Linked DNA regions of Homo sapiens. Each later gene encodes a partner of the first gene's protein in a complex. Each region holds a gene or a part of one and is shown on either strand. Other genes may lie near its edges.

Evidence for each region. The genes of interacting proteins can lie anywhere in the genome.
Region 2: CEP290 (region 1) and TCTN1 share a complex: the UniProt entries of both Homo sapiens proteins name them as parts of the tectonic-like complex.
Region 3: CEP290 (region 1) and AHI1 share a complex: the UniProt entries of both Homo sapiens proteins name them as parts of the tectonic-like complex.

Annotation. Positions count from the first base shown.
Region 1 is NC_000012.12:88,131,248-88,139,088, forward strand, and holds part of CEP290 (centrosomal protein of 290 kDa), read right to left. Parts: intron 5,540-7,841; coding exon 5,396-5,539; intron 1-5,395. UniProt on the Homo sapiens protein: Involved in early and late steps in cilia formation. Its association with CCP110 is required for inhibition of primary cilia formation by CCP110.
Region 2 is NC_000012.12:110,609,470-110,617,128, reverse strand, and holds the start of TCTN1 (tectonic-1 isoform 1 precursor), read right to left. Parts: upstream 3,001-7,659; 5' UTR 2,947-3,000; coding exon 2,727-2,946; coding exon of another isoform or gene 2,666-2,726; intron 853-2,665; exon of another isoform or gene 817-852; coding exon of another isoform or gene 777-816; intron 382-776; exon of another isoform or gene 225-381; intron 1-224. UniProt on the Homo sapiens protein: Component of the tectonic-like complex, a complex localized at the transition zone of primary cilia and acting as a barrier that prevents diffusion of transmembrane proteins between the cilia and plasma membranes.
Region 3 is NC_000006.12:135,452,741-135,460,171, reverse strand, and holds part of AHI1 (jouberin), read left to right. Parts: intron 1-2,458; coding exon 2,459-2,678; intron 2,679-4,245; coding exon 4,246-4,438; intron 4,439-6,735; coding exon 6,736-6,831; intron 6,832-7,431. UniProt on the Homo sapiens protein: Involved in vesicle trafficking and required for ciliogenesis, formation of primary non-motile cilium, and recruitment of RAB8A to the basal body of primary cilium.

The sequences.
Region 1 (7,841 bases):
GAAGAAGATAAAATTCAGCAGTAATTTTTTTTTTTTTTGAGACAAAGTCTTTGTCGCCTAGGCTGGAGTACAGTGGTGCGATCTCGGCTCACTGCAACCTCTGCCTCCCGGTTCAAGCAATTCTCCCACCTCAGCCTACCGAGTAGCTGGAATTACTGGCATGCATTACCATAACTGGCTAATTTTTGTATTTTTAGTAGAGACGGGGTTTCACTGTGTTAGCCAGGCTGGTCTTGAACTCCTGGCCTCAAGTGATCCATCTGCCTCAACCTCCCAAAGTGCTAGGATTTCAGACATGAGCCACTGTGCCTGGCCATCAGCAGTAATTTAATATAAAGCCAGATATTCAGCTTATCTACTTAAATTTTAAATCCTCTCTAACAAAGTAGAAAATGTTAAAGCTATTAAGGATTTAATATCAACCTAACACATAAATAATAGGCCAAAATTTTCAAAACTTAAGGATTTAAGGATTAAACAGTTTCATTTTAAAGAATTAAAAAGAACACACACACAAACTAACCAAAGAATACAGAAACAAATTAATCTGCTCCTCCAAAAAAACCCCTAATAAAATGGTTTTCTGCCCAACATCTTTATTTTACTTTTCTAAGTCATAGCTAGACTATTATTTGCTCTCAGTGAACATAAATTACTTAGAAATATAAGGCAATACAACACAATGGTTAAAAGAAGCAATCTAAAATCACACCGGCCTAGGTTTATGTCCCTCATCAACCAATTTCTAGTAAAGCATGAATGAGTTACTTAACATCTCTTTAACTCAGTTTTCTCATACATGCTGACATAAGAGTTAAACAAGAAGCATACAGAGTTCTTAGAAAAATGATCAGTGAATAGAATAGCAAAAAGTAATACAGCATTCTCTTATCTACATATAAGTGACTTTATCTGTGATTCTTGTTTCTCTGAACAGGCAAACATTATTATAAACATTATGATGCCTTTTTTCACCTATTCTCCAAACCTCATTCCTCTTATGACCTTTCATTTTTCTGGTTCTCCTCTTTATTAAAGGAGACGATAGAATCACAATGGTATACAACGATATTTAAAAAGTCTATAATAAAGAACCAAATGTAGTATGTGATCCTTGACAGAACTTTGGATATTGGAGGTGGGGAGACTGAAGGATATTATTGGGCCATTAGAAGAAATCTCATTATGGACTAGATAATGGTGTTGAATCAATATTAAAATTCCTGAGCATGACAATTATATTGTGTTCATTGTAGGAGAACATCTTTCTTTTTCAAACAGACAAGCTGAAATATTTAAGTGCAAAGTATCATATCTGCAATTAGCTCTTAAATGACTCAGCAAAAAATGTGATTGAACAAACAAGAGACAGAGAAATACATGTGTGTGTAAAAATACTGACAAAAAGATAAAGCAAAGTTGGCACAACATTAAGAACTGGTGAATCTATATGAAGGGTATGTGGGTGGTTATTGTTTTTCTTTTTCCCATCAACTTTTAAGTTCTGGGGTACATGTGTAAGATGTGCAGGTTTGTTACTTAGGTAAATGTGTACAATGGTGGCTTGCTGCACAGATCAACCCATAACCTAGATATTAAGCCCAGCATCCATTAGCTATTCTTCCTGATGTTCTCCCACCCCGACCCCTTGACGGGTCCCAGTGTGTGTTGTTCCCCACCATGTGTCCATGTGTTCTCATTGTTCAGCTCCCACTTATAAGTGAGAACATGCAGTGTTTGGTTTTCTGTTCCTGTGTGAGTTTGCTGAGGATAATGGCTTCCACCTCCATCCCATGTCCCTGCAAAGGACATGATCTTGTTCCGGTTTTTTTTTTTTTTTTTTTTTGAGACAAACTCTAGTTTTGTTGCTAAGGCTAGAGTCCAGTGGTGCGATCTCAGCTCACTGCAACCTCTGCCTTCTGGGTTCAAGTCATTCTCCTGCCTCAGCCTCCCAAGTAGCTGGGACTGCAGGCATACAGTACCATGACCAGTTAATTTTTGTTTGTTTTGTTTTGTTTTTGTAGAGATGGGGTTTCACCATACTGGCCAGGCTGGTCTTGAACTCCTGACCTCAAGTGATCTGCCTGCCTCGGCCTCCCAAAGTGCTGGGACTGTAGGCATGAGTCACCACGCTTGACCTCTCATTCTCTTTTGATGGCTGCATAGTATTCTATGATGTATATGTTCCACATTTTCATTATCCAGTCTATCATTGATGAGCATTTGGGTTGATTCCATGTCTTTGCTATTGTGAATAGTGCTGCAATGAACATATGTGTGCAAGTATCTTTATAAGAAAATGATTTATATTCTTTTGGGTATATACCCAGTAATGGGATTGCTGGGTCAAGTGGTATTTCTGCTTCTAGATCTTCGAGGAATTGCCACACTGTCTCCCACAATGGTTGAACTAATTTACATTAACACCAACAGTGTGTTTCTTACAATCTTTATGAAGATATGACATTTTTCAAAATAAAAATTTAAAGAAAGTTTATAATAAAATGCAAACTACAATACAAATTTTAGAAGTTTGCCTATCATTATTATTATCAATTGAAAGTTAATAATCCCACTGTGTTCTGAATTGGGAAATTTTTACAAGAAGAGAAGCCAAGAACTTAATGCTAAAGCATTTAATGCTATTAATGTTTTTTTCCCTTGTCTTCTCAAACATCACACTCTGTTTCTCCTTTCTTGAGCTTTTCCTTGAAGCACTCTTCCTATTTCATTGCTTTATTAGACATTTCTCAGAGACGTGCCTTACAATCACTTCTCTGGCTTCAATAATGTCTACATTGATGATTCATAAATCCTCATCATCTGTACAGGGTCTCTTGTGAATTCCATATCCACAGATACCCTTTTTGAATATGCCCAGAAGAACCTCAAACTCAACATCTACAAAACTGAAATAATCTCAAGCTTTCCAAATTCCTCTTGTGTTCCTCCTTAATGAATGGCACTATCTACCTATTTAGTGGCCCAACCCACAAAATTAGGCAGACTCTCCATCCTCCCTCTCCTCCAACAACCAATTACATTCACCACATCCAATTACATCTACTTCTCTCACACTTGTCTTTCTCAGGCAAATGCCATCATTAGCACTTCCCTGAATTAACACAAATGTTTCCTTACTAGTCTTGGCCCTTTTCAATCCACTCTCTACAAAGTACAGTAAACTTTTAAAGTATAGATCTGATCATGATATCCTGTGCTCAAAACTCTTCACTGGCTCCTTTCAGGAAAAGAACCAAATTCATTAGGAACTGGCCCTTGCTTATCTCTCCAGAGGATCATAAAAAATAAAACTGGGAAGGCAAGATAGCACAGACTCTTGAGTAAGACTGTTTTCAAATCCTACCTTTACCATTTATAAGCTGTGCAACCATGGGCAATTACTCTTTCTGTGTCTCCATTTCTTCATCTGTATCATGGCAGAAATGACAACTATCTCATATGACAAGTATCAAATAAGCAATAATGAATTAATGCATATGAAGTGCCTGGCACATAGTAAGGACTCTATGAAAGCTATTTTCACTTATATTTCAGTCAAAATGAATAACTGTAGTTTCCTAAATACTCCATAACATCTCTTACCTCTAGGTCTTAGCAAATGCTATATCTTCTACCCAGAATGTTCTTTTATTAACCACCATATATATCCTCATTCCTCTTACCAGTCTAACTATACTTCAGGTCTCAGTTTACAGATCACATCCTGCACCTCAAGGCTGATTACGGTATCTCTCTCCAGAGTATGCCAGAATATGACCTTATGTATCTCCCTAAGTATCATATTATCACTATGTTATGCTTATTATTGACTATGAATATTCTTGAGAACCAGAACATAGTTGCCCACTATATCACTAGTAACTAGCAGCCTCTGGTATGCTGTAAAGACTCAATAAAACTGAATGACTGGTTAACGGCAAAGAAGTAATTGCCAAAGCAACCCATACCCATATTTCATCTCAAGGAATTGAGCAGCCAAAAAGGAACACAGGCCATATATTCAAGTTTTCTCTGTGTGTGACTATGAAAAAAGACAATAGTCTAAGATATAAATGGACAAGGTAGTTCTGATTAGCTAAGGGTGTGTGGTATGAATGATAAGTCAACTGATACAGGTCTATATAGAAGAACAAAAGTCCAGAAAACCACAGACATCCCCCTAAGCAATTCTACCAGTGTATATTATAAGTTAGATCCTTGATGACTATTAAAAAATCCACATGTCTGCTATGTTTTGCAGTTAGCTAAACAGATAATGCTCTAAGAGCTTCTTCCTAACATTTAAGTGGCATCGATCCATACTTTCTCTACCACATTGTTTTCATAGCTAACTTCTATATGATTCTTCAACATTTTAGAGTAAAATACATACATGAAGAATGGGGATACTTTTCCTTACAAATCAATTTATGATACATTCTCTTAAATAGCATATCATTGTTTTCTTAAAATGTATGACCCTCAATTTCTGAGAGAACAATGGACAAAATAAAATAAATGGAATATAACACAACAATGACCTAAAGGACACAAAGGTGGAAAACGTTTCTGAGTATAAGGGACAGGACAGTTACCACATGTAGGCACCAAATTTTACTAAGTTTACTAACAGTTCAGGTGAAATAAAAAACAAATAAATGTTAAGTAAATAAATAAATAATACATTAAATAGGAAGCTGAGGTAAAATAGGAAATTTTCTTCCAGGAAATACAAGTTGATCTGCAAAAAACTTTTTTCCTAAAACTAAATTCAAGTGAACACTGCAAGAATTATTAGTTTATAACAAGGAATAACGAGGTAATAAAAACTATGCATTAAAAATGTTATTTTAAATATGTGATTTATAAACTGCTGACATGAACACAACTTTTCAAAAACTATACATATATATATATATCTCACATAAAATAAGGTACAACCAAAAACAAGATATTTAATTAACCATTATTGAATATATCGAAAGATTCATTTGCGAATCTACTAATCATATAAATACATTGAAATGAACAAATATAACTTTTACCCAAAATAAACTATGGCACTAGAAAGATCACTTCTTTATGAAAATCTATTAGTTACTTGATACCAATCTTCCAGACAAAAGCATTAATTTTAGGTAACAAGTTTGATGTCCTGAGAAAAATGTACTTCCAAATATAAAGAATTAATCTTCAAGTCATATTCACTAGAAGTACCATTATATTTTAAAATTGGTGATGACAAAATGAACAGTGATATAAAACCTTAGAGATAAGTGTACATCATTTTTCAAATATAACATACAATATAAAAATTGATATTGTTACCAATAATAATAAAAAGCCAGGTAACTTGAACAGTGAAGATTCATGGAAAAAAAAAGTGCTTTACTTGCTCATTAACTTTCTTCTCTTTCTCCAACTCCTTTTCCATGTCCTCCAATTCTCTATCTTTTTGTTCTAATTGTTTTTCAAGTTGGCAAATTTCATTACGTAAAAACCGAGTATCTCGTCCACCTGCAGACTGCTGAGCCATCTTAAAGTAATAAACCCAAAGTATAAATTAATCCCATTATATTTTGAGGTTCAAATGAGTCAACAACAAGCAAATAATTATGCTGAATTTAAATTTGCATTATACTTCAGTGCAGATATTTAAAATCATATTAGCTTAAGAACTTTTTTTTTTTTAATTTAACTTACTTAAGGTTAGTTCACAGCTAATAACTCCTTAAATTTTTCCTGAGCCACCCAGAGATGCAAAGAATTGACTGTTAATCATTCTGTTGTAACCACTGGGCCACAGGTAACCAGACTAAACTGCAAAGGTTCCTGAGCCTCAGGGATCTGGAACCTGAGTACAAACCATCAGAATCTCCACCCCAGTCAGTGAAGCTGAGTGCCTTAACCTGCCCTTTCTCTCATACCATGCACTGTTTAGACCAGTGCTGTCCCATAGGACTTTCTAGCATAATGGACATGCTGTCAGTGCTGTCCAGTTCAATAGCCACTCGCTACATGTAGCTATGTTCGGGCATTTGAAGTGTGGCTAGTGCAACTGAAGAACTAAATTTTTCATTTTAATTTTAACCAATGTAAATATAAATAGCTACAAGTGGTTAGTGCTAGTGCTACCATATTAAACAGCTCAGGTTTTGGTTATCTTAAGATTTGTAGCCGATTAAATCCATTTTACCTCACAGTCTTGTTAATTCAGGTCATGGCCAAGAACATCAAATCATTTGGTCATCTAATGTGTCTCACATTCATTTCTTCACCTTATAGTTCTGTTATTCCTCTACCTTAACCAAATTGTTCTTACTCTTTCTCTCCTCCAAAAAGCATTCCATTGTGCTCTCTAAAATTCTCTTCCAAGATAAATTAATATTTCACATCCTCAGATTCTTTACTGAATCCTCCTTTCCATCTCCTTGGCTTAGCTGCAATTTGGATCCTTTAGTATACTAATGCCCTTGGAACTCTTTCAATTGGAAGGTGCTCATTCTTTCAGATTCCAAATACATGAGGGTCAGAAGAAGGTGTTGGTGCTTCTAGGTTTACCCCACCCTGCAACTTCAGGTGATCATTCCTATCATTCCTCCATCATCCTATAGAAACTTCAGCTGCTTTCTCACAAAATATCCTGCTCTCCATCTTTACCTACTCATGGTAGAAACAAGCCACCAACCTTCCAGTAACTCCGCAAAATGCACTGGGAATTTAAGCATGTGGCCCACAGATGTCTATCAAATGCCCACTAAGCAATCTCCACATAACTTTTGTTCTAGTCTATTTTTTTCTTGAATTCACTATAGTCTCTCACTCCCACACCCACATCAGATCCTTGTCCAACCAGAACATTCTTTCAATTATTCCCACTATGCCTGTCCTTCGACCTCACAGGACACTCTAACCCCTCATCTTCTCCCTCCATATCCCTACCCTTCTGCCCACCCAACCCCAATCTTGATTTTATCTATTCAGTTAAGACTTCATAATCATCACTTCAACCACTTTCCTACCAATATCTTCAACTGTGCTACCCTTCTATTCTACAGCAGCTACCTAGCTAAACACTAACACAGAACTGATCCAACTCCATAATTCATTTAGTATTTATTGAAAGTGCTTGGCATTTTCCCAGGAGCTGGATATACAATCAAAAACAATAGGTCATCCAAGTTCAGAGAGTTAACGAGTAGAAGAATCAGGACTAGAACTCAAATCTGTCTGACTCCAGATCCCCAACTCTCCAGTCCTGTCTCCAATATATTTCAAATTTTACCTAATTTCCTTAAAATGTGACCACACCATTTCCCACTCTTTTTAACAGAAGATGTCATCACCAACCCCTCAACTTCCAAGCATTATGCCTACAAACATAAAAGCCTCTATACACATCCACTCTTCCCACGCTCATCCACTCATCCTCCTCTCCTAACACAAAGGAAAAGGGTATTCCTCCTTTCAAAGGCTGATCCATTTGTATCACATTCCTACCTTCTCAGGAATCTCAATGTATTTTGTTCTTCAACAATACATTCATATTTTAGCCTTCAGCTTTGTCAAAAATTACTTCTATAACACCCTTTCGTCACTATTCCTCAAATCCCCACCCACCCTCCACCTCAGTTACTAGTAATCTTTCTGTATATTTCCCAAGACTATAAGCTCCATCCAGCAGTTAACTTCTTATTTTGTTCACAACCATATGCTCAGTCCTTAGTACTATATAAGGCACATAATAGGCATGTAGAACATATACAGAATAAACAAATAACCATGATTACAATCATCCTTATAATTTTTCCAGCCAACAATAATTTTAAAATTTGAAA
Region 2 (7,659 bases), about 22 Mb from region 1:
CTGTATGTTTAAAATTACTATCTTGCTTTGTTTTCAAAACTTAAAGCCCTTATAGGCAGCTGTAAGACTACTAAGGACGAAGCAATAGTGTTTAATAACTCCACTTAGGAAAAAGGTTTCTACCCAGGATGCGAGTGTACTTAATCATCCACCAAGTAGCTGTTGAGCCCCTGTCAGGTCTAAGCAGCACTCAGCTGCCCTTGCCTCCTATCGCATCTGCACACCTGGCTTGTAGAGCAGGGTACTAATGAACAGAGCCCAGATTCAAGATGAAGGGTTATCACTCTTCTCCACCAACACTGCCTGAAGCCACCTGCAATTTTCCATCCAGTTCTCCACTCACAGTCAGCCTCCTGCTCCGATATCTACAAGTTGCGTGTCCTAAAATTAGGCAAATAATTTATCCACCTGAAAAATGGGGATAACAGTACCCTCATCATGGGGTTGTTGTAAGGATTAAATGAGATACATCATAGGTGAAATGCTTAGCACAGTGCCTGCCACACAGTGAACAGTTAACAAATGAGTTATTACTGTCACAAGTCTAAAGAGAGGTCCTTTAAAAAGGTGAAGACAGGTGACTGGCAGAGTGCAGTGGCTCAAGCCTGTAATCCTAACACTATGGGAGGCCTAGGTGGGCAATCACTTGAGGCCAGGAGTTCAAGACCAGCCTGGGCAACATGGTGAAACCCCGTCCCTACAAAAAATTAGCCGGGCGTGGTGGCATGCAGCACCTGTAGTTCCAGCTACCCGGGAGTCTGAGGTGGGAAGATCACCTGAGCCTAGGAGGTCGAGGCTGCAGTGAGCTGTGATCATGCCACTATACTCCAGCCTGAGTGACAGAGTGAGACCCTGTGACCAAAAAAAAAAAAAATAAAGTGTGAGGACAAGCACAAATTCATCCCCTATACTGGAAAAACAGCCTTGAACACATGCTATAATAATGATGTTTCAAGCATAGCTTTATTTTGGAGAGAAAATGCATTAACAGATGGAGTACTTACATGAATAAAAGACAATCCAGTCCAAAAACTTTAGAGTTTCAGGCATTGAATACTTGGCTTTCTTCTGTCCCAGTTTATCACTGATTTAACTTCCCTACTAATTCATCAAATCAACAATTTAAATATAAAACAGAGCTCTGTTTATATATTAAAATAGCAAATATATTTCTCTGTACTTTTTCTTTCAGATTACTCGTAATTCAGAAAGGAGAGCTTTTGGAGAAATAAAGGTTCAGTAACCGCAGTTAAGTCCTAGAGTTCAAGATCTCAGCTGATGACTTTTTTACTTACTAATACTGAGCCTTAATCAATTTGAGAAAAGATCTTCTTAAGAAGGGATAGGCTGGGCACAGTTGTTTACACCTGTAATCCCAGCACTTTGGAAGGCCAAGGTGGGAGGATCACTTGAGCCCAGGAGTTTGAGATCAGCCTGAACAACATAGCGAGATCTCATCTCTACTAAAAATAAAAAAATAAAAAAAGCAAGCTGGGGGAGCACGCCTGTGGTTCCAGCTACTCTGGAGGCTGAGGCAGAAGGATCCCTTGAGCCCAGCAGATTGAGACTTAAGTGAGATATAATCACGCCACTGCACTCCAGCCTGGGTAACAGAGCGAGACCTTGTCTCAAAAACAAAAAAAGAATAAAAAAAGATTAAAAGTACTGCATATCTATTGGGGTTACTCTCAATTCACACAATCGGAAAATTTTAAAAACTTTTTTTGAGATCATGAACCACTTTAAGAATCGGCTGCTATGAACTCTCATCTCAGGAAAAGGCATATTCACAAAGTTTTGCACTCAATCTTAGCGGGTCACAGTCATTCAGTGAAGTCATCCATGTCAATTTTTTTTTTTGAGACAGTCTTGCTCTGTCGCCCAGTCTGGAGTGCAGTGGTAATTACTGCAACCTCTGCCTCCTGGGTTCAAGCGAGTCTCCTGCCTCAGCCTCCCGAGTAGCTAGGATTACACCATGCCCGGCTATTTTTTCTATTTTTAGTAGAGACTGGGTTTCGCCATTTTGACCAGACTGATCTTGAACTCCTACCTCAAGCAATCCACCCGAGTTGACCTCCCAAAGTGCTGGGATTACAGGCGTGAGCCACGGCGCCAGCCAAACGTCAAATTAGATTATAAAATATTTCCACTAAATGTGTAATTCTAGAATTAATCATTTTCTGAAAAAAATGTTAATTATCCCTACATATGACTCCTAAGAAGTGAGCATAACCCCTCCCTCAATAGCTTTCCACCTCCAATTCAACACAGGAGGAATCCTGGGTTTTTAGAATTCAGGTCAACAGAGAAGGGTCTTAACATAGTCACATTTAGTAAGATAGACCTTTGGCCTCTCTTTAAGTGAAAGTTCAGTGCAGCCAAGGCACTAATTTCCACCATTGTCTCGACTTAATTTCGTCTTGGGCTGCAAGAATTCATTATTGCTCTTTGCATCACTGTTGTCTGGGACCACTTCAAGTATTTTCAAAGGTTTGATACCGTTCCACTTAAACTCTGAGACCCGGTTTTCTCATTTACCTGACAGTGATAGTAACAGCTACTTCTCAGGGTTATTGTTTAGAGAATGGACGTTTATGGAACACTCAGCAGTGTCTGCACACAGTAAGTGCTCAATAAGAGTTAGCTATCATTATTACGTCCTCACCGGGGCTGTCCCCTTGAGGTTGGATCACTGTGGACTCCAGGAGCTGGCACATGGTACCCACCGTCCGTGACTGGGGTAGGCCTGGGGCCGGAGGAGGGCCCTGGAGCCCTGGGAGTCCCGGGGGGCCTGGTCGACGGGAAAGTTCCGAAGGTGGCCAGGGCTGCCTCGGTGGAGTTGAGGCCCTCTGTCGTCACCGCCGGGGTGGCATCGGTCTGGGCGCTCACGGAGGCCCAGCAGCCCAGGAGCACCACCAGGAGCGGCGGGAGACCTCGCGGCCTCATCTCCCAGGGAGTCCCAGCGAGGCCCGCGACATGGACAGCGCGTTGCCCGGCAACCGCGACAGCCAGGCGCGGGGCATCACGGGAAGGGGCTTGCGAAGCCGCGAGAAGCTGCCGGAGACTGACTGGGGCGAAGCCTGGATGAGGCAGGGGGCGGATCCCGGATGAGGCCGGAGGGCGGCGCCTGGGTGAGGCAGCGATGGCAGGCACAGGGGCGAGCACTAGTGAGCGGGTGTGAAGCTGGCGTAAACGAGGGGCGTGTAAATCCCGGCTGTGGTTTCCAACCGGTCCGCGGCGCTTGCTTAAAAAATGCAGATTTTCTGTAGTTCCAGCTACTCGGGAGGCTGAGGCAGAAGAATCGCTTGAACCCGGGAGGTGAAGGCTACAGAGAGCCGTGAGCGTGCCACTGCACTCCAGCCTGGGCGACAGTGTGACACTCTGTCTCAACCAAAAAAAAAAAAAAAAAAAAAAAAGACGGATTTCCAGGTACCACCTCAGGAGATCCTGAGTCAGTTAGTCTAGGGCAGGACCCAGGAATCAGTTTTTGGGGGATTTTTTTTGAGACAGGGTCTCACTCTGTCGCCCAGGCTGGAGTGCAGTAGCGCGATCTCGGCTCACTGCAGCCTCGACCTCTGGGACTCAAGCAATCCTCCCACTTCAGCCTCCTGAGTAGCTGGGAACTCAGGCGCGCGCCACCATACCCAGCTAATTTTTGTATTTTTTTTTTTTTTTTTTTTTTTTTGTAAAGACGAGGTCTCCCTCCGTCGCCCGGACTGGTATCGAACTCCTGGTTCAAGTGATCCACCTGCTCCAGCCTCCTGAGTCCTGAGTAGTTGGGATTACAGGCGTGAGCCACCACTCCCAGCCAGGAATAAATATTTTTAACAAATGTCCGGACGCAAGCAGATGAGTTGGACGGAAATTTAGGAAGCGCCGTCCCAACGCCACTAACGTGGGTGTTTGGAAGGAGCACAGGGATCTGTGAGATCACTGTCTCTGAATTTTCTCTATCCCAGACTCTGTCAACACTGGCTTCACCTTTTTATTTTAGCTGCATCTCACAAGGTTGCCAGATAACTTCTGTCTGCTGTATTGTGATAAAGGGGACAAATGAACACTTAATACCTTTTATTATTTTTTGTAGAGAGGGGGTCTCACTATGTTGATCAGGCTAGTCACAAACTCCTGGCCTCAAGTGATCCTCCCGCCTCAGCCTCCCAAAGAGCTAGGATTACAGGCATGAGCCACCACGCCAGGCCTAAGAACCTATTTAAAGACAAAAATCTTTTACAAAAATTAAGTAAAATAATTTAGACATCTTAAAGGGGAAAACAAAGCAAATCCACTGTAATGCTACAAAACGACCTGGAGACCCTACGATTTAGGAAACCCTCTCCATTCTGAATGGGCTTATTTAGGAGGTACCCAAGCCCAAGAATGTTGGCTGCACCTTTGACACTTAATCTCCATACAGTTCAGAAGTAGATGTCGAAGTACTTAGACGTGGCCAGGCACAGTGGCTCACACCTGTACTCCCAGCCCTTTGGGAGGATCGCTTGAGTCCAGGAGTTGAGACCAGCCTGGGCAACATGGTGAAACCACATCTCTACAAAAAATACAAAAATTAGCCAGGTATGGTGGCACATTCCTGTAGTCCCAGCTACTCAGGAGGCTGAGGTGGAAGGATCGCCTCAGTCTGGAGAGCTTGAGGCTGCAGTAAGCCATGATAGTGCCACTGCACTCCAAAACAAAAAAACCTTAAACATAACACAGTATTTATTCAAGAAATGTATATACCAATTCAAAAGGATGTCAAACAGTATATATATCTAGTTTATTAAATGTATTTAGCAAAACTAAATCATCAAAGTGATATCTTTAGCACCTTCCTGTGGCATTCCAGAGACAGTGTATAAAAATATAATTGAATCACTCAAATGTGTAAGACAGATACTTCTTTTTTTCTGCAAAGGATTGCTTTAGCATCTGACTGAAATTCTGGACTGCTTTTAATAACTGATTAAATGCTTCCCCTTTTAAAAAAAATAACCAAAAGTAGGCCGGGCATGGTGGCTCACGCCTGTAATCCCAGCACTTTGGGAGGCTGAGGCGGGTGGATCACGAGGTCAAGAGATCAAGACCACCCTGGCCAACATGGTGAAACCCCGTCTTTACTAAAAATACAAAAATTAGCTGAGCATGGTGGTGGGCACCTGTAGTCCCAGCTACTCAGGAGGCTGAGGCGGGATAACTGCTTGAACCTGGGAGGCAGAGGTTGCAGTGAGTCGAGATCACACCGCTGCACTCCAGCCTGGTGACACAGCGAGACTCCGTCTCAAAAAAAAAAAAAAAGTATATTTTCCAAACCTTCATCTCATAACTTCTAAAACCAGGGCCTGTTTGTTTTCCTTTTTAAACCTCTTTACTTCCAGCCCTCTACTTTCTTTCCTATTCCTTAATACCTGTGAACCATTTTGTTCTATTTTCTGTTTTGAAATTTTAGACTGCTGGATTAAATTTTGATAACTCATCCTTTAGCTTTATAATTTTTTTTTTTTTTTGAGATGGAGTCTCACTCTGTCACCCAGGCTAGAGTGCAGTAGCAGGATCCCGGCTCAGTGCAACCTTTGCCTTCCAGGTTCAAGTGATTCTCCTGCCTCAGCCTCCCAAGTAGCTGGGATTATAGGCACCTGCCACCAAGCCCAGCCAATTTTTGTATTTTTAGTAGAGACGGGGTTTCACCATATTGGCCAGGCTGTTCTTGAACTCCTGACCTCAAGTGATCCGCCCACCTTGGCCTCCCAAAGTGCTGGGATTACAGGCGTAAGCCACCACTCCCATCCAGTTTTATAATTTTTGTTATGGTTATAGGACCTCTGAGGTCCTCTTCAAGTCTGATATCCCATTATTCCAACCAGGACCTGCTATGATATGATTTGCCAATTTCACCGCCTCTTTTGTCCAATCTCAAACAAACACGTGGTAGATGGCCCCAAAGTAATTTTATGATATTTGACTCTGAATGAGGATTGCACCTACCCAGATACAGTTTGCAAACATTAGGAACACTGGAACTTTTCATTTCACAGGTGACCCATTTCTGCCAGCCTGTTTTCATCTTTCAACCCAGAACACCCTTTCTCCCTTCCTTTTGTCCCTGGCCTTAGCAGGTTCCCTCATTAGGATGGAAGGACACAAGAGTGGCTAAGATCGAGCTCCATATTGTGCCCAAAACCTCAACATTTGGTTTGTGCATAAATGTTTGTGATTTCAAATATCCATCTGTTTCTCCAGGATTATTGGCATTCACAATTCCTTATAGTGTATGCTGACATTGGGAGGATCAAGACAATTCAGCTTTTTAGAATTCTGTGCTGAGAAGCTGCCATATATGAGAAGTCGCCATATATGAGAAGCCTGAAAGGAAAAAAAATCAAAGATAGGAGGAGTATGTAAGTAGGGAAAAAAAACTAAGGCTAACTTCACAAGGTAGTGTCAACCACTCTGTCTTGCTCTTTGGTGTGGTTTGAGGTGAATTGGTTATTATTGTTGTTGTTCTTGTTATTGCTGAAGTCATGGCTTCCAACCTGTTTAAAATTAATAAATTAGCTGGGCATGGTGGCACGTATCTGTGAACCCAGTTACTCTGGAGGCTGAGGTGGGAGGATCGCTTGAGGCCAGGACGTCAAGGGCTGCAGTGAGCCATGATCACACCACTGCAGTCTGGCCTAGGCAACAGAGTGAGACCCTGTCTCAAAAGAAAAAGTAGAAATTTTTTTCTAGTGATTAGTATATCTATTTTTATTAATCTCTCCCAAACATTTCACAAATGAGGTGGCAGAGTCACAAAGCTTCCTAAAGGGGTTGCTTTAGATCTACAAAGGGATCAAGACTGTGTGAAGACGGAGGATTGGCTGTACCATTTTGACTGAAGTAACTAGTCGGGTAATTGATTTCCAGATCAACGCCCAGAAGAAAATAATCCTCAACTGCTCTCATTCTCCCAGTCCCCACGTACCTCATCAACCACTGAGTACTATTCTTGTTCTTTTTTTTTTTTTTTTTTTTTTGAAATGGAGTCTTGCTCTGTCGCTCAGGCTAGTGTGCAGTGGAGCGGTCTCAGCTCACTGCAACCTCCACCTCCCAGGTTCAAGCAATTCTCCTGCCTCAGCCTCCCAAGTATCTGGGACCACAGGTGCCCGCCACCATGCCTGGCTAATTTTTGTATTTTTAGTAGGACGGGGTTTCACTATCTTGGCCAGGCTGGTCTTGAACCCCTGACCTAGTAACCCACCCGCCTCGGCCTCCCAAAGTGCTGGGATTACAGGCGTGAGCTACCGCGCCCAGCCTATTCTTGTTCTTTAAGTGTTTTCTGAAACATTACGGGGACAGAAGGACTATTTGAGCAGACTTCACATTCTTGAAAGGTCTCACATTTGCATTTGACCTTTTCTAAAAGAAAGTCATACATACAGTCACAGACATTCACCAACAGGAATGAAATAAGAATTCCTTGTTTACCATACAGTTGTTATTTTTTTTTCTTTTTGGGTTTCTTTTTTTTTTTTTTCTTTGAGATGGAGTCTCACTCTTTTGCCCAGGCTGGTGTGCAGTGGCCCAATCTCAGCTCACTGCAACCTCCACCTTCCCAGTTCAAGTGATTCTCCTGCCTCAGCCTCCCAAGTAGCTGGGATTACACATGCCTGCCACCTCACC
Region 3 (7,431 bases), on another chromosome or scaffold:
TTGCCCTGTCACTCAGGCTGGAGTGCAGTGGCGTGATCTCAGCTCACTGCAACTTATACTTCCCAGGTTCAAGCGATCTTCCCACCTCAGTCTTCCAAGTAGCTGGGACTACAGGCATGCACCACCATTCTTGGCTAATTTTTGTAGAGACAAGGTCTCACTACATTTTCCAGGCTAGTCTCAAACTCCTGGGCTCAAGCAGTTCTCCCACCTCAGTCTCCCAGAGTGCTGGGATTACAGATGTGAGCTATCGCGGCCCACAGAGTTTATTCTTACATTGTTTGGATTTTTCTACATATGCAATCATGTAATACGTTAATAACGATAGTTTTATCGCTTCTTTTTCAGTCCTTATGCCTTATCATTTTGCTTGCCTTGATACAAATCAAGATTTAATCTCTTTATTATCAATCTTTTTTTTTTTTTTTTTTACTTCTGTCAGCTATTTGATATACTGTAGTTTTTGAGGGATGTGTCTATTTCATCCAAATTTTGCATTTCTATAGCATCTGAAAGGCTGTCCCATGTTTTCATTCATGGTATTGGCAGTTTGTTTTCTCTCAATTTCTTGATCAGCCTTAGGATTTTAAATTTATGAGTCTTTTCAAAAACCAACCTTTAGCTTTGATTTTCTCTGTTGTACATTTATGTACTATTTTAGTGATTTTTTTTCTTGTAACTGTATTTTCCTTCTTTGTACTTATTTGGGTTTGATTTGCTACTTATTTCTAGCTTTAAAATTGGGTTTTATAAGAAAGATTTCAGTCTTCTTTTATATGCATTTAAGACTAAATTCCCATTTAAGTACTACTTTACCTGCATCTCCAAAATTTTTAATATTGTGTGTTTTTATTATTTAACACAAAATATTTTCTAATTTCCATTTTAATTGATCATTATTTAGAAGTATGTTGCTTAGTTTCAGGCAGCAGATGCTTTTCTAGTTATCTTTTATTGGTTTCTGTCTTCCATTGTTGTCAGATAACATATTATGAATGATTTCAATCCTCTGAGTTTATTGAGGCCTTTTTAATGACCATTTTATGGTCAGATTTGGTAAATATTCCATGCTCATTTGAAAAGAATGCAATTTCTAATGTTGAGTGCAGTGTCCTATGTATGTCAGTTAGGTCAAGTTTAATTGTGCTCAGTTCTTCTTATTAATTTTTTTGGTCTACTTATTCTGTCAGCTGTTGAGAGAGGTATTAACATTTCCATTCCGATTTTCAGTTTATTTTTCTTGTATCTCTTGTCAAGTTATCACTTTTATCATAATGCAGCGCCCTTCTTTATCTCTAATAATTCATAGCCCTAAATACGATGGGAGATCCAGTTTTGCCCTTCAGTGCTTTTCCACTTAGCCATTTAGTCTTCTGTCTCATGCTGCTTCAAAATTTGGCAAATTCTTTGAGCAGGAGACTGGCTATATGTTAGACATCCTTCAGGTATCCATTTTTGTCACTGTAGCCCCCAAGCATGCCAAAATATCCGCTGGTTTCTCTGTCCCTCAGTAGCAACCTTCTGCCAGAAATCACACCTGGATTATCAACCTAGAACTGTGACCAGAATTGGTAGATGACCCCAGATGAAAAGTTGCTCTTGGTCCTTAGTGTAAATTGACCACACCCTCCAGGGCTTCACCTTTGCCTATTTTGTTTTGGTCCCCTTCCCCTGGCAGATCATGGTCTGCTAGCACCACAAGCCTGGGAGATTTCACTACCTCTCTAGCTTCTCTGTAGCATCAGAATTCAGTTTTGTGAGAAGAATTGGTCATGTGTTTGAGGCTTCTCAAATCTCCAGTTTTATCATTTTAGTCCTGTGGAATCACTAAAAGTTTTGCTTATTTCTCATTCTCCTGGCAGTGACTTTCTGCCTAAGCCAAACTCTCATCTTCAGCTCACACCCTGAATCAGCAAATGTCCCCAGAGACAAAAACAGCTGCCAGTCCATCAGCTGACCTCTGACTGATTCTCCCTTTCTGGAATTTTAATCTGTCTACTATATCTTCTTTCTGTACTTTTCTGATGCCTTTAAAATTTAAAATAAGATATTTGTAATTTATTTGGCTCTTTCCAGTTGTTACCCAAAGTGTTTACCTGCTGCATCCTACTGCATCCCACCCAGAATTAGAAATTCTAGTTGTCATATATATTCTACTTAGAAAATACCTGGATAAAGTTACTTTTCTGACTTTGACTCTCTTTTTTTTCTTTTTGTGTTTCTCCTACTTATTAGGAAAAATATAAACAAGGATTTTTCACCTTATTTGTAATGTATTAGCAAATGTAGTATTTTACTTTCACACTATGGTTTGCTGTTGTCTGGCTTTTTCTTTCTTTCCCCCTGAAGTTCCTTTGAACACAGTGAGATCATCACAGATCTTAAAGATTAGGTTATATGTAAATACTACTATGGGAACAACTAATTATAACATTGATTTTTTTTTCCATGCGTGTAGTTGCAGATAATAATGAAGATGTTGATGGTGATGGTGTTCATGAAATAACAAGCCGAGATAGCCCGGTTTATCCCAAATGTTTGCTTGATGATGACCTTGTCTTGGGAGTTTACATTCACCGAACTGATAGACTTAAGTCAGATTTTATGATTTCTCACCCAATGGTAAAAATTCATGTGGTTGATGAGCATACTGGTCAATATGTCAAGAAAGATGATAGGTAATTTTTTTTAATTGCACAACTAATTCTTGAAACTGAAACTAGTAGAAGTCTTTTTTCTGCCATTGGTAGTTGAAAGTCAGTGGGAATAGAGTTATGGATTTGTATTAGAGAATAGTCTACTAGTTGTAGGTGTTCATCAGTCATTAACATTGATCAGAATGTTGTAGAAGAAATGGAGAACATCTAATTCAGTAATTACTTTTTTTCCGAGATGGAGTCTCGCTTTGTCGCCCAGGCTGGAATGCAGTGCTCAATCTTGGCTCACTGCAACCTCTGCCTCCTGGGTTCAAGCGATTCTACTGCCTCAGCCTCCCAAGTAGCTGGGATTACAGGCACTCGCCACCACTCCTGGCTAATTTTTGTATTTTTAGTGGAGGCGGGGTTTGGCCAGGATGATCTCGAACTCCTGACCTCAGGCGATCTACCTGCCTCACCCTCCCAAAGTGCTGGGATTACAGGCATGACCCACCGTGCCTGGCTCAGTAATTACTTTTAAGTGGAAGGGAATAATTCATTTTAAGTGGTAGAGAGCTTCTGCCAGCTTAGTAGATGTAATTTATGACATAAAGTTGCATTGTAAATATTTTATATTGCATTGTAAATGCTTTAATTGTCTAACCTCATATTTTTCTTTTGAAAGTAATGTTATCTGGGCTTCAGGTAAGGTAAATGAATCTTGAATGTTTTTTCTAAGAGTACTTCTATAGCTAATGCATGCTTGAAATCCCAAATGAAAAGTACAATGAAATACACATTTATACTAGAATTTTTTAAAAAATTGTTTGGAAAGCCAGTGGGGAATGGAAACAGGAAGATTGTCCAAAAAAAGCCCATTCACCTATTCATTTGCCTTAGGGCACACAAAGAAAATATGACAACTCAAAGGGTTTACAGTCTTGTGCCTTTTTTATGTAAAATCAATTTTATGTCTTTTTTTTTTTTTTTTGAGACAATATCTCACTGCGTCTCACTGGCTGGAGTGCAGTGGTGCAATCACAGCTTACTACAGCCTCAACCTCCCTGGGCTCAGGTGATCCTCCCACCTCAGACTCCCACGTAGCTGGGACTGCAGACATGTGCCACCATGCCCAGCTAACTTTTTTTCTATTTTTTGTAGAAACGAGGTTTCATCATGTTACCCAGGCTGGTCCCAAACTCCTGAGCTCAAGCAGTCCACCTGCCTCAGCCTCCCAAAGTGCTGGGGTTACAGGCTTGAGCCGCTGTGCCTGGCAATGTCTATTTTATTATAAACTCTTACAAAATTCTGAAGGAGTTAGTTTATCCCAGCTTTATATGGCAAAGGTATAATCATACTTCTCACTTTATATTTCTATAATAAAATAATCATGTGAAACCAATTGATAGTAGACAAATATAAGATGGACTGTTACTTTTAAGTCTTATAAAATTTGTAAGTTTCTAGATGGACACTCAGAATAATTTTTCCTTTTGTATTATTATGACTATTCATTATTTCTGGTTGCCTCACCTTGTACACTATATATTTTTTTCTCACCTCAAAATTATGAAAATTGTGTTAATGGAAGTATCTTTTTTTGTACAGTGGACGGCCTGTTTCATCTTACTATGAAAAAGAGAATGTGGATTATATTCTTCCTATTATGACCCAGCCATATGATTTTAAACAGTTAAAATCAAGACTTCCAGAGTGGGAAGAACAAATTGTATTTAATGAAAATTTTCCCTATTTGCTTCGAGGCTCTGATGAGAGTCCTAAAGTCATCCTGTTCTTTGAGGTATGAATTGAATGGACCAATTCAAATTAAACGATAGTTAATATTTAATAGCACAAATGTAAGCTATTATTTTTAGTAGTCCAGTAAGGCAAAAAAAAAAGTTGTGTGAGAATTTAATCTCTAGGATTTAGTTTTCCAATGCTGTGGAATCAAGTGAGACGCCCTTTTATAAACAGTGATAGCATATTTGCTGAGTGTTTACTATTTAACCATTTGGCCTACTTTGTATAATTTAATAATTACAACAGCTCTGTGACTGTTAACTGTAGTGAAGTGATGAATCCACTCGATATGAATGCATTTCTCCATTTTAAACCCATTTCACAAAGCATAAACTCATTTAACCATGTCAGGCACCCTAAGAATATGTGTACCACCTGGATAAATAAAGATAAATGTACACAGATCAGTTAATGCAGTTTAATATGTAACCAAAAATGATGTAGAACTTATATGTGAAGGGTTAGTGGCGGGTCAGTGGAGTCAGGGAAAGCTTTATGGAATACATGGCTTTTGAGCTGACTAGTTGTTATTATATAATTTTCTTACTGAAAATGATAACAAGGTTTGGAATAAAAGTGATTTCCCCAAAGTTACTCGAATTTTAAGTTAAAAAAAATGCGTTTGCAGATAGTTTGAACCTAGAATACCACATTTCTTTACTCTATCATGTGTTCTGTCTCCATAAGCAAAGGACAATAGAGAAAGCCCCCTTCCAGTGTAAGCTAGATGGAGAAGTTTAGCATGGGAACAGCAGGGGACTTGGCATAACCAGTGCCGAAGATTCATTTTGTAGAATTACTTGTTTTTATGATCCTTGACTTTCAGGTTGTCTATTTGTATTTATGATACAAATATTCCAATATTTACATTTGTGATTATGTTGTGTGTGATTTACATAAAGCTGTTATTGTTGAAAAATTGATATAATTTGTATCTTAAGGAATTTTTTGTCTTCAAACTTTGTCATTTGTTACAATTTTCTTCTGTATTCATTTTAGTATTAAGAGATGAAGAAGGATAGATTGTTGTATTATAAACGCTTTTGGTTGCTTCTTAAGTTTTAATGTAATATGTTATTGCCTATGCAACTGCTTTTTGATCTCAGTTTTTTAAGTGTTGAGGACAACTTGATAATGTCTCACAGTCTTTAAAACCATTATTTTACTCTTAGGTATTTATCTTAAGGAAAAAAATGACAAGTCCGTGAAGATGTGTGTGCAAGGATATTTATTTCAGCACTGTTTATAATAGCAAAAATTTTAGGGAGATAAAATAACCTACATTTAGATCAGTAAGAGATTTGGTTAAATAAGTTATAATTTTTGTTAAATTTATGGTATTTGTGACAGAATAGTAGGCAGTCATTAACATTACGGTATTCATGTGTATGTATTGACATGAAGAGATATTCACTACATACTATATGAAAATAATTTGTGAAATAGCATTATTAGATTTGTAGTTCCACACATATGTTTAGGAATGCACAGAAAAAGATTTGGCCTGCAAACTAGATGTTAATGGTGACCATCTATGGGTCTGGATTACAAGTTGTTTTTACTTTGGATCTATATATTTTTTATATTATGTTTTCACTGAGCATGTATTATATCTGTAAAAAAGATTTAGGTATCCAAAAAGCACAGATGATTGGAGTCTGTATCATTTCTTAAGCAGTCTTCTTTCTATAAAAATCTCATTTTCGCAGCTGAGCTTTTAATAAGCACCAGTAAGTTTGAAGTGATAGCCTTTGATAAATATCTAGAATACGATCTCTGTGGCAGGTTGGTTGCAAATCCATGAGCTTTAATGTCCAGACAGGATAGAGGAATGGAAGAAATCCTCTTGAGAAGCCTAATTATAACATACATCCAAAGAGAAAAACCCCAACTTCAGGAAGGTGATCCAAGACAAAGACCCAGAAATAGGGTTGTGAGTTTTTTAAACAAACAATCCTTTAAAGTCTGCTGTGATACATAAAAAACAATGAAAGCTTAAGAATTCTATGCCTATTATATTTGTACCTAGGTTATATTTGAGGTGATTAACACTTTGCTTTGGATTTGAAATAAATCATAGTATTTATTAATGAAAGATAAAATAGTCAGAAAATGGACCCTCCCTAACTGAATGAGTTAACTTTAAGGTGAATGAAATGAGATAAAAATGTTTTTATTCCCTGTAAAGGTTAATGTTTTTAAGCACTATACAAATGATTTTTTAAAGTTTTAATAATGTACCATTAGAAAATATTAAATTTTAGGTAGCTTAGTCTTCTGTGAATTTATTTGCAGATTCTTGATTTCTTAAGCGTGGATGAAATTAAGAATAATTCTGAGGTTCAAAACCAAGAATGTGGCTTTCGGAAAATTGCCTGGGCATTTCTTAAGGTATGTTTTTCATCCATTTTAAACACTTTAAAACTAGTCTTCAAATTTAGTTGGCTGCTTTCTCCCAAATCAGTTTGGTCTCATATAAGGAATTAGAATCTAAGGTAATGTTGTAGGGATGAAGAGTTACTAATTCAAGCTCAGGTTATGCTCATTCAGATTCTTAAATATTTATTGATGGCCCAGTATGTGCCAGTTACACTATTTGGTTCTGAGGATGTAGCATTAAAAAAGACACAAACAGCCATGCCATTATTTATTCAGTTCAAAAAATATTAAGACTTTTCTATGTGCCAGCTACTGTTGTCAGTGGACAAAGATGACAAATTCCTTGAACTCCTGGACTTCATATTCCAGCAACACAAACATAAAACAATTGATTTCACAATTTATCATTTAATTATAAATTTTTATAAATATCGTAAAGAGGTATAGGATGGATGATGAACTGTGGGGTCAGGGAAAACATTCCTGAGGAAGAGACACATTGCCACCGGTGGGGAAGAAATGGTCTATGGTAGAGGGTACAATATATGCAAAAACCCTGATATTTGAAGGAGCAGGGTTAATTCAGAAAATCAAAAGAAGGCCACCAAGATT